2 linked regions of the Homo sapiens genome follow. The protein of the gene in region 1 interacts with the protein of each later gene in a pairwise test. Each region holds a gene or a part of one and is shown in the gene's direction. Other genes may lie near its edges.

Evidence for each region.
Region 2: the proteins of ZCCHC7 (region 1) and GIPC2 interact in binary tests that used the Homo sapiens proteins (3 or more experiments, as listed by UniProt).

Annotation. Positions count from the first base shown.
Region 1 is NC_000009.12:37,354,256-37,358,871, forward strand, and holds the end of ZCCHC7 (zinc finger CCHC domain-containing protein 7), read left to right. Parts: intron 1-454; coding exon 455-569; intron 570-2,579; coding exon 2,580-3,013; 3' UTR 3,014-3,894; downstream 3,895-4,616.
Region 2 is NC_000001.11:78,076,966-78,083,965, forward strand, and holds part of GIPC2 (PDZ domain-containing protein GIPC2), read left to right. Parts: intron 1-3,709; coding exon 3,710-3,895; intron 3,896-7,000.

The DNA of each region.
Region 1 (4,616 bases):
AAAAAAAGATCAAAGGGCTTAGAACTTATACCCACATTTTGGGGATAGGAAGAAGAGATGGAAAAGAACTTGATAGAAGGCTGTTGGAAGTGATGGACAAGCAAAGGAGTAATACTAACATGAGGCCGAATAACATAAACCCACTAACAGAGCGGCAAGGCTGCTACCTCAGACTGTGAAAGGAGTTAGGCAGAAAAGGCTGAAAAAAGATACGAAGGGTTTCATAGGTAAAGAAGTAAGGGAAGAAAACTCAAGCTTGAAAGAATATCATAACACAGTGGGGTTTAGGGCTGGGTGACCCTCCCAACACCCCAGCAAGGACCATATCCTACAGCCACCACATGAGGTACCAGTGACATGGGGCTCATTTCTAATTAACATGCTCCAGAATCTTGCAAAAAGGTTTTTGAACAGTGTGACCATGTGACATCATAATTTTACATACAATTTATAGGAATGTCCAGAAAGAGAAGTGTATGACCCGTCTCCAGTATCTCCATTCATCTGCTACTATGATGACAAATATGAAATTCAGGAGAGAGAAAAGAGACTAAAACAAAAAATAAAAGGTATGTTGCTAGACTTCTTGTTAGATCACATTTGCAGTAGTTTCTAAATTTCTTTGTTTGTACTGTCTTTGCCTGCTTTGGGGGTCATTGGTTAGCATAGAAAGTATTTTTAGTAATTACCAAAGAGACTGGAACTTTCTTGATCTCCAGAAACCAAGCACCCACTTCAGAAATAATCCCATGTTGCAATCTCCTCACAGTAAACATTTTTTTACAGTGATCATTTTAGGAAATGTCCAGAAAATATTGCTGTCCATCTATATAGGCAGAGTTTTTAAAGGCTCCTTTGAGATTTTTCTGTTTGACAGGTAATTATTTTTTTTTCCATTTGTATTTCTCCAGTATTTTTTTATGGAAAGAAAGGCTTTCCTGCTAAGTTATTCCTGGAGCTTCCCTGAAGAAGTCATTTGTTAGAGGCCACCGCTGCAAGCAGAGCTCCAAGTTCACAACCACCTCTGTGGTTTCTGTACTTACTGTTGCAAACATTGTTCTTTATCACCAAATTAATATCTTATCATTTAAGTTTTCTCTACCTCTGTTCTTTCTTGTTATTCACTTCAAGGTGGTTTTCCAAGTTATCTTTCTTGCTTTAAAAACAAAACAGTTCTGTATTTTTTTAGTTTGTTCTATACCTTATTTTCTGACTCTTTTGGCCTTTTACTCTTCTGGATTCTTAGTTCAGGACCTTTCCAAAATGAAGGTACTAATTCTGAGGAAAATAGAGTTATTACTCTCCCAGCTCCTGCATATTTTACATATTTAATATAAAATGTATGTCATCTACAGCTATCCCTGGATATTGGTTCCAGGAGCCTCCTCATTTACCAAAATCTGCACTTACTTATGTCCCATAGTTGACTCTGCAGAACCTGATTATAGGAAAAAGTAGCCGTTCGTATACACAAGTTTCTAATCTGTGGAATGGTGTATTTTCAATCCTCATTTGGTTGAAAAAATCCACATTTAAGTGGACCCACGTAGTTCAAACTCATTGTGCAAGGGTCAGCTGTGTGGAGAAGTTATAGTAGTTGTAGATTATGATTAGGCAACCAAATTAGAGATTAAAAAGAATTGCATGAAAATGTCATCTCTAGATTAAAGGATTATATGTGCTTTCTGTTTTTTATGTTCTTTGTACTTTTCTGTTTTTTCCAGGTTTTCTATAATGAGCAGTTATAACTTATAATTAGAGAAAACCCATTTTGGTTTTTTTTTAGCTAGTTGTATCGACGTCTGTAGCATAAATCCACTTTGAGGTGTTCACTATGATCCTTTGAAATTTTTATAATAAAAGTCTATGCTAAAAGTTTTTATTGGCCACTTTTTTAATCTTTAAAGATTCTATTGACTGCTAGTTTTCATCTCTCACTGTAACCTCATCTCCCACCTACCCGTATCAGAATCACTATCAGAGATCCGTATTAAGCGTGTCAAGCTCTGACAAAACATTAACATCAGCTTTATCACTAAAACCTCTAAGATACCCGCACTCACGTGCACTCACACACACTCCTCAAAGCCAGTGATCTCTACCCTGGAGGAATAATCTCTTGGGCAGTTTGGCATCCACCTAAAAGTACTATGGCCAGGCCTTATCTTTAGAGGGTGGTTGAAATGTCATATGAGACCATCAAAAGGCCATTTTATAAATCTTGCTTTGCCTCATTTTCAAAGGCTGACTCGTCATCATTGGGGAAACTCGTATTGGTCAGACATGACTTTTCTTCACAAAGCTAAGATGATTACTGTTCTTACAGGTCCTCATCTCCATTGCTTAACCTTGTTAAACTGTTGAAAAGGATAATTAACTATCATTGGATTTCTGAATGTGTTTCATTTTTAGCAATCAGAAACTTGGAGCTACAACTATTTAATTTTTAGTGAGTGATGTCATACTGTTAACATGTTTAAATATCTAGCTTCCCTGTCTGTTAAGTTATTTACACTTAGGAAAGCTCAGCATGGACTGTTTAGCTGCTGAATATGCAAAAATACTTTTATATTTTTCAGTACTCAAGAAAAATGGGGTTATCCCAGAGCCATCCAAGCTACCTTATATAAAAGCAGCAAATGAGAACCCCCACCATGATATAAGGAAGGGCCGTGCCTCATGGAAAAGCAACAGGTGGCCTCAAGAAAATAAAGAAACACAAAAAGAAATGAAGAACAAGAATAGAAACTGGGAGAAGCACAGGAAGGCTGACAGACATCGTGAAGTGGATGAGGATTTTCCCAGGGGCCCCAAAACCTACTCTTCTCCTGGCAGTTTTAAAACCCAGAAGCCTTCTAAGCCCTTTCACCGTTCATCACATTACCACACGTCAAGAGAAGACAAGTCTCCCAAGGAAGGCAAGAGGGGCAAGCAGAAGAAAAAGGAGAGGTGCTGGGAAGATGATGACAATGATAACTTATTTCTTATTAAGCAGAGAAAAAAAAAGTCTTAAGCCGTCAGGCAGCCTCTGATGTGGCTTTTCATTGTTCATTTGGCCTTTGTGTCTATAACCTTCTGGCACTGTGTTTATTATCTATGATTAAATAAAGTGAGTTTTTGGTTTTGTTTTTTTAATTTCAGCCATTCCTAGAGTTACTGAATATCCATGGAGATCTCAATTCTCTGTGTCCAACAGGATATTAGGTAAGAAAGTACAAAGATAAACCTGGACTTCTCCTATTCCAATATGTCATCTTTACTCAGAATCCTAGGGATAGGTAGAAGAATTCATCTTTTCAAGAAAGTGTTTTAAAAATACTTTGGGAAAAAAACTGCATCAAAGGTAATTTATCCTCAAATTAAATCCTTGCAGGAAGAGAAATTAACACTAAGAAAAAGTCATCAATATTTTTCAACTTTTTTTTTTTTTTTTTTTACTTTGGAAAGGACAATAACTATAAACCTATATCCAGATTTTCTTTCTGCTGAAGCTGTTGTCAGAATCTTCCTTTGGACAAAACATCACTAGCTGACTATAAAAACAAAAGTGTCATCATTGAAGCCCTGAAGAGGCAGGGAATTGAGCTTCAGCAAAATACAGGAAAAGAACTATCCAGTATAAATGTCAGAAGACAGATTTCCTAAACAAGTAAAAGAGACATCAAAAATTTTAACATAATCACAATGAAATCATTTTTTACCACTTTTACAGCGGTGTTTCAAGCGGACTGTCACTCAGATCTGCAGAGATGAATATTACTCAAAAAATTTTTTTGTTCTCTTGCATTTTTTTCAACTACCGCAAAGCTATACAGATTTTTTTGTACTTGTGGATCTTTTGTACTTCTCATAACCTAATGTCAGACTAAGAAAAATAAAATATCTGAGAGTAAATACATGTGTTTATTATGTAAAAAGACAATGAGAGTTTGAGTGACAAAGAGCATAGTTAATGTTTATTTTGTTTGTTTGTTTGTTTGTTGTAGAGACAAGGTCTCACTGTGTTGTCTAGGCAGGTCTCAAACTCCTGAGCTCAAGTGATCCTCTTTCCTTGGCCTCCCAAAGTGCTGGGATTACAGGCATGAGCCATCACTCCCGGCCTTGGCATAGTTGTGTTGGGCAGGTGGATAAAGTTATAAAATCCCTGTAGACTGGAGTCAAAAATGCCATTTTTGCCCAAGTGCAAGCTCTCTGCCAGAATAAAATGGTATGAAATCAATTAAATAGGACAATTTTATAATGTCAGGTTCTTAAATTTGTATTTTACTCTTTGGGAAGTATGCAGATTCCTGTATTTCTGGCAGAATCATCTCTCATCTTTCTGAGAGGAAGGAAGAATTCTGTCCTCTCAAATCAGTGCTAGTGCAAATTGTAGGATCACAGAGTTTAGTCTACCACTTTCCCTGTTGCTGCATAGATTTCAGCTAACTTTATTATATGTTGATGCATAGCTTCCTAATAGCTAGAGTTGTTTTCACCCTAAAGTAAGCAACCAGGGTTTTTTTTTTAACAACTTGCTAAATGTGGCAGCCATAAAAAAAGTTTCATGGAAGTGGAAAACCTTGAGATAATTGGCATTATTCTCCAGTAGGACTTGAGGCAAACATGGCTTATTA
Region 2 (7,000 bases), on another chromosome or scaffold:
CACCATGTTGGCCAGGCTAGTCTCGAACTCCTGACCTTAGGTGATCTGCCTGCCTCAGCCTCCCAAAGTAATCCCAAAGCCTGGGATTACAGGTGTGAGTCACTGCGCCCAGCCTAAAGACATGAGATTCTAAAGCTGAACTGCCCAATGTTGTAACCACTAGCCGAATTTGGATACTGAGAACTTTAAATGTAGCTGGTTCTTCCAAATTGAGACAAGATGTAAGGGTAAATACATGCTGGATCTTAAAAACTTAATTTAAAAAATGAAAACCATCTTAATAATTTTTACATTGATTATAGGCTGAAATGACAATATTTTGGATATACTGGGTTATATAGTTTTAAATTAAATTAATTCAGCTATTTCTTCTTACTTTTGTTACTGTGACTATTAGAAAATTTAAAATTATTTAGCTTACATTGTATTTCTATTGGGCAGTGATGCTCTAGAAAATGAAATAGTCATGGGTACTCCATCAGTTATGGAAATAGGCAATGATGGCAGTAAAGCAACAAATACAGATTACCCCAGAAGGTGTTAAGGATTTCATTGTACAATGAAAAACATCATTAAGATTATATCTACTGAATCAGTCATTTTCCTTACGTTGTGTGATACCTTGTTACGAGTTTACTTTCCAAATCTTTTTTGATTTAGTTTAGTTTGTCCGTCAGAGAGTGTTATATTTTAAAAAAAAGTTAAATGCTGCCTTTCACTGCCTGTTGTGTAGCGTACTTAGATTCTGGAAGCAAATATTTCTTAGAGGAGCATTGATAATATGGCCACTTCACTGTTAGTTTTATTGTTTTCATATGAGTATGAGTGAGGGTATGAAAGCTCACAGTAGCTTCTTAAGGTTCCTTCTGACTTAAATGTTCATTATCTTTTGATGAGTGAATGAGCAGGAACTTTGCATTCTTTAGAAACTAGTGTATCACGGCCGGGCGCGGTGGCTCACGCCTGTAATCCCAGCACTTTGGGAGGCCGAGGCGGGCGGATCACGAGGTCAGGAGATCGAGACCATCCCGGCTAAAACGGTGAAACCCCGTCTCTACTAAAAATACAAAAAATTAGCCGGGCGTAGTGGCGGGCGCCTGTAGTCCCAGCTACTTGGGAGGCTGAGGCAGGAGAATGGCGTGAACCCGGGAGGCGGAGCTTGCAGTGAGCCGAGATCCCGCCACTGCACTCCAGCCTGGGCGACAGAGCGAGACTCCATCTCAAAAAAAAAAAAAAAAAAAAAAACCTAGTGTATCACTTTCTTATTTTGCAGTTCAAAATATAAAATCTTTGAGGATGCTTGAATTTCTAGACCTTTATCATATACTTAGAGGTATATTTGCTGATAGTTGTGCATTGATACTGTGATAGCTTCTTATTCTCCCGTGAAGAACTGATCTGAAGTCATGGAGCTTTAGTTACCTGCTGCTCTTATTCCACCTTGCAGTGGCTATCACATTCCTACAGGTTTTCAACACAGCTTCCCATGAAGTTCCATTCACTGAAAGATATAGCTGGCTCCATTCCTTACAGAAAAAAGAAACTAATGCCCTGCTTGCCAACTTTTGGCTGTCTAGAATGGAATGTTATTCTGCACGGGAGGAAGCACGATGGAAAAGGGTTCTTCTACCTGCAGGAAATCTAATGTTTGCTTTGTAGTGAAGCATGCGAAAAGTTGAAAGAAAGGAAGCAAAGGAAGAGGCTTGGTCATTAGAAGTTCAGTTTGTGTGAGATTTCCTTTTTTTCCTTTTTGTTTTTCTCTATCCTGTTATACCATCATGGTATTTTAATTTTTTTTTTCCTAGCTAATGGGTAAATTGCTTTTATATTGGTGTTTGGGACCCACTGTGAATACCATGGACAGATTCACCGGAAAAAAAAAAAAAAAAAACAACAAACCAAGGAGGAGAAAAATGTTGTTTCTTCTACTTACTTCCCATCATTTTGTGAAGGAGAGTCAGAAAAGCTGTTTTCTACACATACTCCCTTCTCCCTCAACCCATTCACAGTGATTTTTGTCAGCAAACTAATATGCCATTGATTTTACAGTTAGGATCAGAAATATGCACCATTCTTGACTTAACCGATTTTTTTCCCCCTGAGAACAATATCATTTTTACACTAGAGAATATGTGCAAAAACTTATTATCTACAAAGCTGAATGTATTTTGCCCTTGCCGGGAACATAAAGGGTTAAATTGAAGGCTCAACAAAGACTGGGATGAAAAGAGGACAAGTTGGGGGGCCATAGTTGTTTCCTGTAGGCATTCACTGTTTTGTAGCCAGTGGCATTTTTTTTTGTCCTCATCACTAGCTCCTTTAACACACCTCTGGGATTTGCTCTGAGCTTGGCTGAACACTCTTGACCTTTGATTGTATAGCAGGGACAGCTTTATTTTATGAAGCTCTTCTGATTCAGACACATTTTGACATGGCCTAAAAAGCCATTCAGTAAGTAGTAAATGCACCCTATTTCTGAGTGGGATGCAGGTTATGGATGTGTTAAGGCTCAATCAAGGTTCTGTTAGGAATTAGGACTGGTGTGAAACTCCAGGATACTGGGAGAGGGTTGAGAGTGAGGCCTGAGGTAAGGATCCGGGATGGAGGAAGAGGCTTGCAATGCCTGTGGTGGACATTATCTGATAAATTTCATTTAGTGATTTCGGCATGAAACAGCCATATTAAAATGCCCTTTCTGGCTTATTAAATAGAAGCTACTCAGTACATGTTTGTTGAACTTAGCTTCTTAACCGATGATACCTTTTCAACCCTGCTTCTCTTCTTCTATAATTTGGGCCCCACAAGTTACCCAGATTATGGTTGACAAACTTGAGTAGCACTGCACATTTTAGTCAAGTGAGTCATATTTTTGAAGGAAAATGAGGTCAAATAAAGACTTGGTAAACATAAAAAGCCCCTTTGAAATCTCCACACAACTTTTCACCATTTGGTTTCTTTTTTGCTCTCTTTTTACTGTCACATGAATTGGTACAAGTTGTTTTAAAATCTCCAGACCCCAATTCCATGGCCCCCCTCCCCCCTTTTTAAATTGGGTTAATAGTCTTTAAAGTCCATTTTAGTTCTAAAACATACTGATTTTAACACCTCATTCACTAAATAAATTGCTTTTTTTCAGGCACTATAATGCAAGATAAATAAAATTGTCTATATTTAAAAATGTATTTACCAACTTTCAAATATAGGCTTGCCTATATTTTAATTGTAGTGTATGCATGATGCAGACCTTTGGGACTATAACCTTTGATTTCAGCATTATAAAATGTCAGGTCCCTTGGCAGAAACCACTTTAAAATGGGTGAGACCTGAACTCAAATCCTTGGCTCTGACAAGTACTGGCTGTGTGACCTTAGGCAAATTACTTATTTTTACCAGGCTTCAGTTTCCTCATTTGTAATATGGTGATACCAATGTCCTTTATAAAGTTACTGTAAAGATGAAGTGAGATAATGGGATGTAAATTGTCTAGCGTGAAGCCTGGCCTACAGGAAACCCTCAATACATGTTACCTAATGCTACTGTCTGAAAATGTGTCCCAGAATCTCTCTAGCCAACATAAAAACACATTTTATGATGTAACTCTTTACATCATAAATTGAGGAGTATTTCAGTCAATAAATGTTTATAAATAAATTAACGGTCAGATGTATTCCAAGTGGAAATGGACCTGACATTTTATTTTTCTTTGCAGATCTTATATTGCACTTTAAACACACCTAAAATTGACATGGAAAGACTCTTAGGAGGACAACTAGGACTAGAAGATTTCATATTTGCCCATGTGAAAGGAATCGAAAAAGAAGTGAATGTGTATAAATCTGAGGATTCACTTGGTCTCACCATTACAGATAATGGTGTTGGCTATGCTTTTATAAAGGTAAGTTTTAAAAAATAACAGTGTAACCTAATTGAGGATAACATTTAAGAAAATCTACCAGGCCAAAGAAAGTTAGAAATGATCTTCAGAGTGAGAGCCCGCTCAGCAAGGATGCATGAATTGGTAATGTTTCACTTTCATTTTAAAAATGTTCAGATGTCAGTTTGTGTTTACTATTTTCTTAATTTCTTCCCTTTAGTTTAAACTTCCCCTAGAATTTAGAACTAACTGAAAGGAAAGTCTAACCCTGGTGCCTACTCATTATCCATATAAGCTTTTCCATGTCTGTAGGTTTTAACATCTGATGAATTTCTGGCTTATTTCCATTGAATTAGTGTTATTTTCCAACTGTTCCTAGTTTTGACTGCCTTATTTACTTCTTTAAAAATGCCCTTCAAAATTTTAGGAAGTATATAAAGTTGGATCTCTGTATCTGTAGGTTCTGTATTAGTGGATTCAACCAACCACAGATTAAAGGTAGTTGAAAAAATGGCATCTGTACTGAACATGTATGGCCTTTTTACTTGTCATTATTTCCTAAACAATACAGTACAACTGCTTATGTAGCATTGCCATTGTGTTAGGTATTATAATCTAGAGATGATTTAAAGTATATAGAAGGATGTGGATAGGTTATATGCAAATACTACACCATTTTATACCAGGGACTTGAACATCAGTGGAATTTTAGTATTGATGGTGTGTCCTGGAACCAATCCCCCATGGATACCCAGGGCCAACTGTAATTCCTTTATTCAAATACAAAGAGAGCGATATAGAGCTTCAAAGGCAAGATAAAAGTTTGAAATGGTGTGAAACTAAGAACTGAGGAGAAAGGTAGTCTCATCTCTTAAAAATAACAACTCTATTATTGTAATAGTTATAATAGTAACAGACTTATATTGAATGCATGTACTAGGCACTTTGCATACAATTTCTCACTTAATTCTCACAATTCTATTTGGTTGGTATTATGTTTTTTCTTTGTATTTATTTTTTTGTTGCAGTATAAGACATTTTTAATGTACAGCTTAATGAATGTTTACATACTTATCCCTGTTTAACCATCACCCAGATCAGGATAAATTGCATTTCTGCCACTCAGAAGGCTCATTTGTGCCCCTTCCCAGTCAATAATCTTTCCCCGCAAAGTAGCCATTATTCTGGCATCTATTGCCATGAACTTCATATAATCATATATTATATACTCCACTATTTTCGGCTTCTTTTGCTCAAAAAGATGCCTATGAGATCCATGGATAGGTACTATTTCCAACCTTATTTTACAGATGTGGAAACAGGCTCAGGAAGGTTAAGTAGCTTGCCCAAAGTTATACAGCTGGACACATTCAGGATTTGGATCTATGAGGTCTGACTTCAGAGCTGGCACTTCTATTCACTCGATTAAGAATTAATGATAGATTTCATGCAACAGGGAATATTTTGTGCCTTTATTTTGTCCAAATCTTGATTTGCTGATGCATTGTCACCATTAAATAATCTTAGGGAAGTTATCTTCTTAACTGTAAATGGGACTTTCGCTACCCACTTGATAGAATGGCTATTTTTAGCTCTGCAAAAGATATGACTGTGCTGAAGGTTGAGTGAGTGACCAAATGGAAAATCTGTGACTGGGAAAGTCATATGGGATTATCCAAGGGAAGCTCAGGACATGAGGCACAGGCAGCAGAGAAGGGCTTGGAAGTTTCACAAACGTGTGTGGATTTTTAAAATCTTAGCCTCTGACATTCAGAGCTTGTCTTTCTATTTTTTAAAAAATGCTTTGTCAAACATGTGCCTGACTCAGAGTACTAGTCACTAGCCCTGTGGAGATATAGGGCATGTTAGCAAAGGAGAAAGCAAGGCATAATCTAAACTGCCAACATATAGTTCAACTTAGAAGAGAGATGCACATTATACTGTATACATGGTTGATGAAATTTTTTAAAAATTGGGAGAGGATAATTTCAAACTTACATAAAGATTGCAATAATAATACAAAGAACTCCCATAAATCATTTATCCAAATCTCCAATTTTTACCATTTGCCATGTTTGAGTTTTTTGTTCTGTCTCATACACACACATATATATATATATACTCTTTACCCCTTAGTACTTCAGAGTGTAATTACTAAGAACAAGGATATTCTCTTACATATAACTACAGTACAATTATGAAATTCATACAGTCTAATATTGATATAATACTTTTAAACTAATCTATAGTTCACATTGTAGTCTTATCAGCGTCCTAATTGTGTTCATTATTTTCCCCTCATACAGGTCCAATTTAGGATCCTGTATTTCATTTATGTCTTTTTAGTCTTCTTTATAATCTAGAATAGTTGTCATGTCTTTTTAGTCTTCCTTAATCTAGAATAGTTCCTCAGCCTTTTATAGGATGTCCCTGAATTTGGGTTTTTCTGATGTTTCCTCATGTTGATAAATAGATTGTGCATTTTTGGTAGGAAAATTACATAAGTGATGCTGTGTCCTTCTCAGTGCACCACATCAGAAGGTACATGAAACTGGTTTGTCTCATTGTTTGTGAGATTAACTTTTGTCACTTGTCTGAGGTAGTGTCCACTAGTCTTTTTCACTACAAAATTATTTTCCTTTGTGATACGTAATTGTGGAGAGATGCTTTGATATCATGAAAATACCCTGTTTTCTTACTTGCATGGCACAAATTTAGTATCTGTTGATGAGTCTTACCTGAATTAATTTTTCCTATAATGGTTGAAAAAATGATGATTTTTCTAATTCCATCACTCCTTATATGTTTCTCTGAAAGCATTTTATGGTAGGGAAAAAGCTGCCCTTATTTATTGTCAACATGGGTACATGACTTCGTGTTTTACTGAATGGTTTATAGTCTGTTACTATCAATTATATTGATGCTCAAATTTCCTGAGACTTGGCCTGCAGGAACCCCTGTAAGTGGGCCCCCATGTCCTTTTGACATGGCTCCTATCATTTTATTGAGTAGGTTCTTACTTTCTAGAACACAACAAGATATTCTAGACCCATCTTGTATCTCCTTTTCCCCTGACCTAGAATCAACTATTTCTCTCAGAAGCTCTGATTTTTACTAGAGATTGAT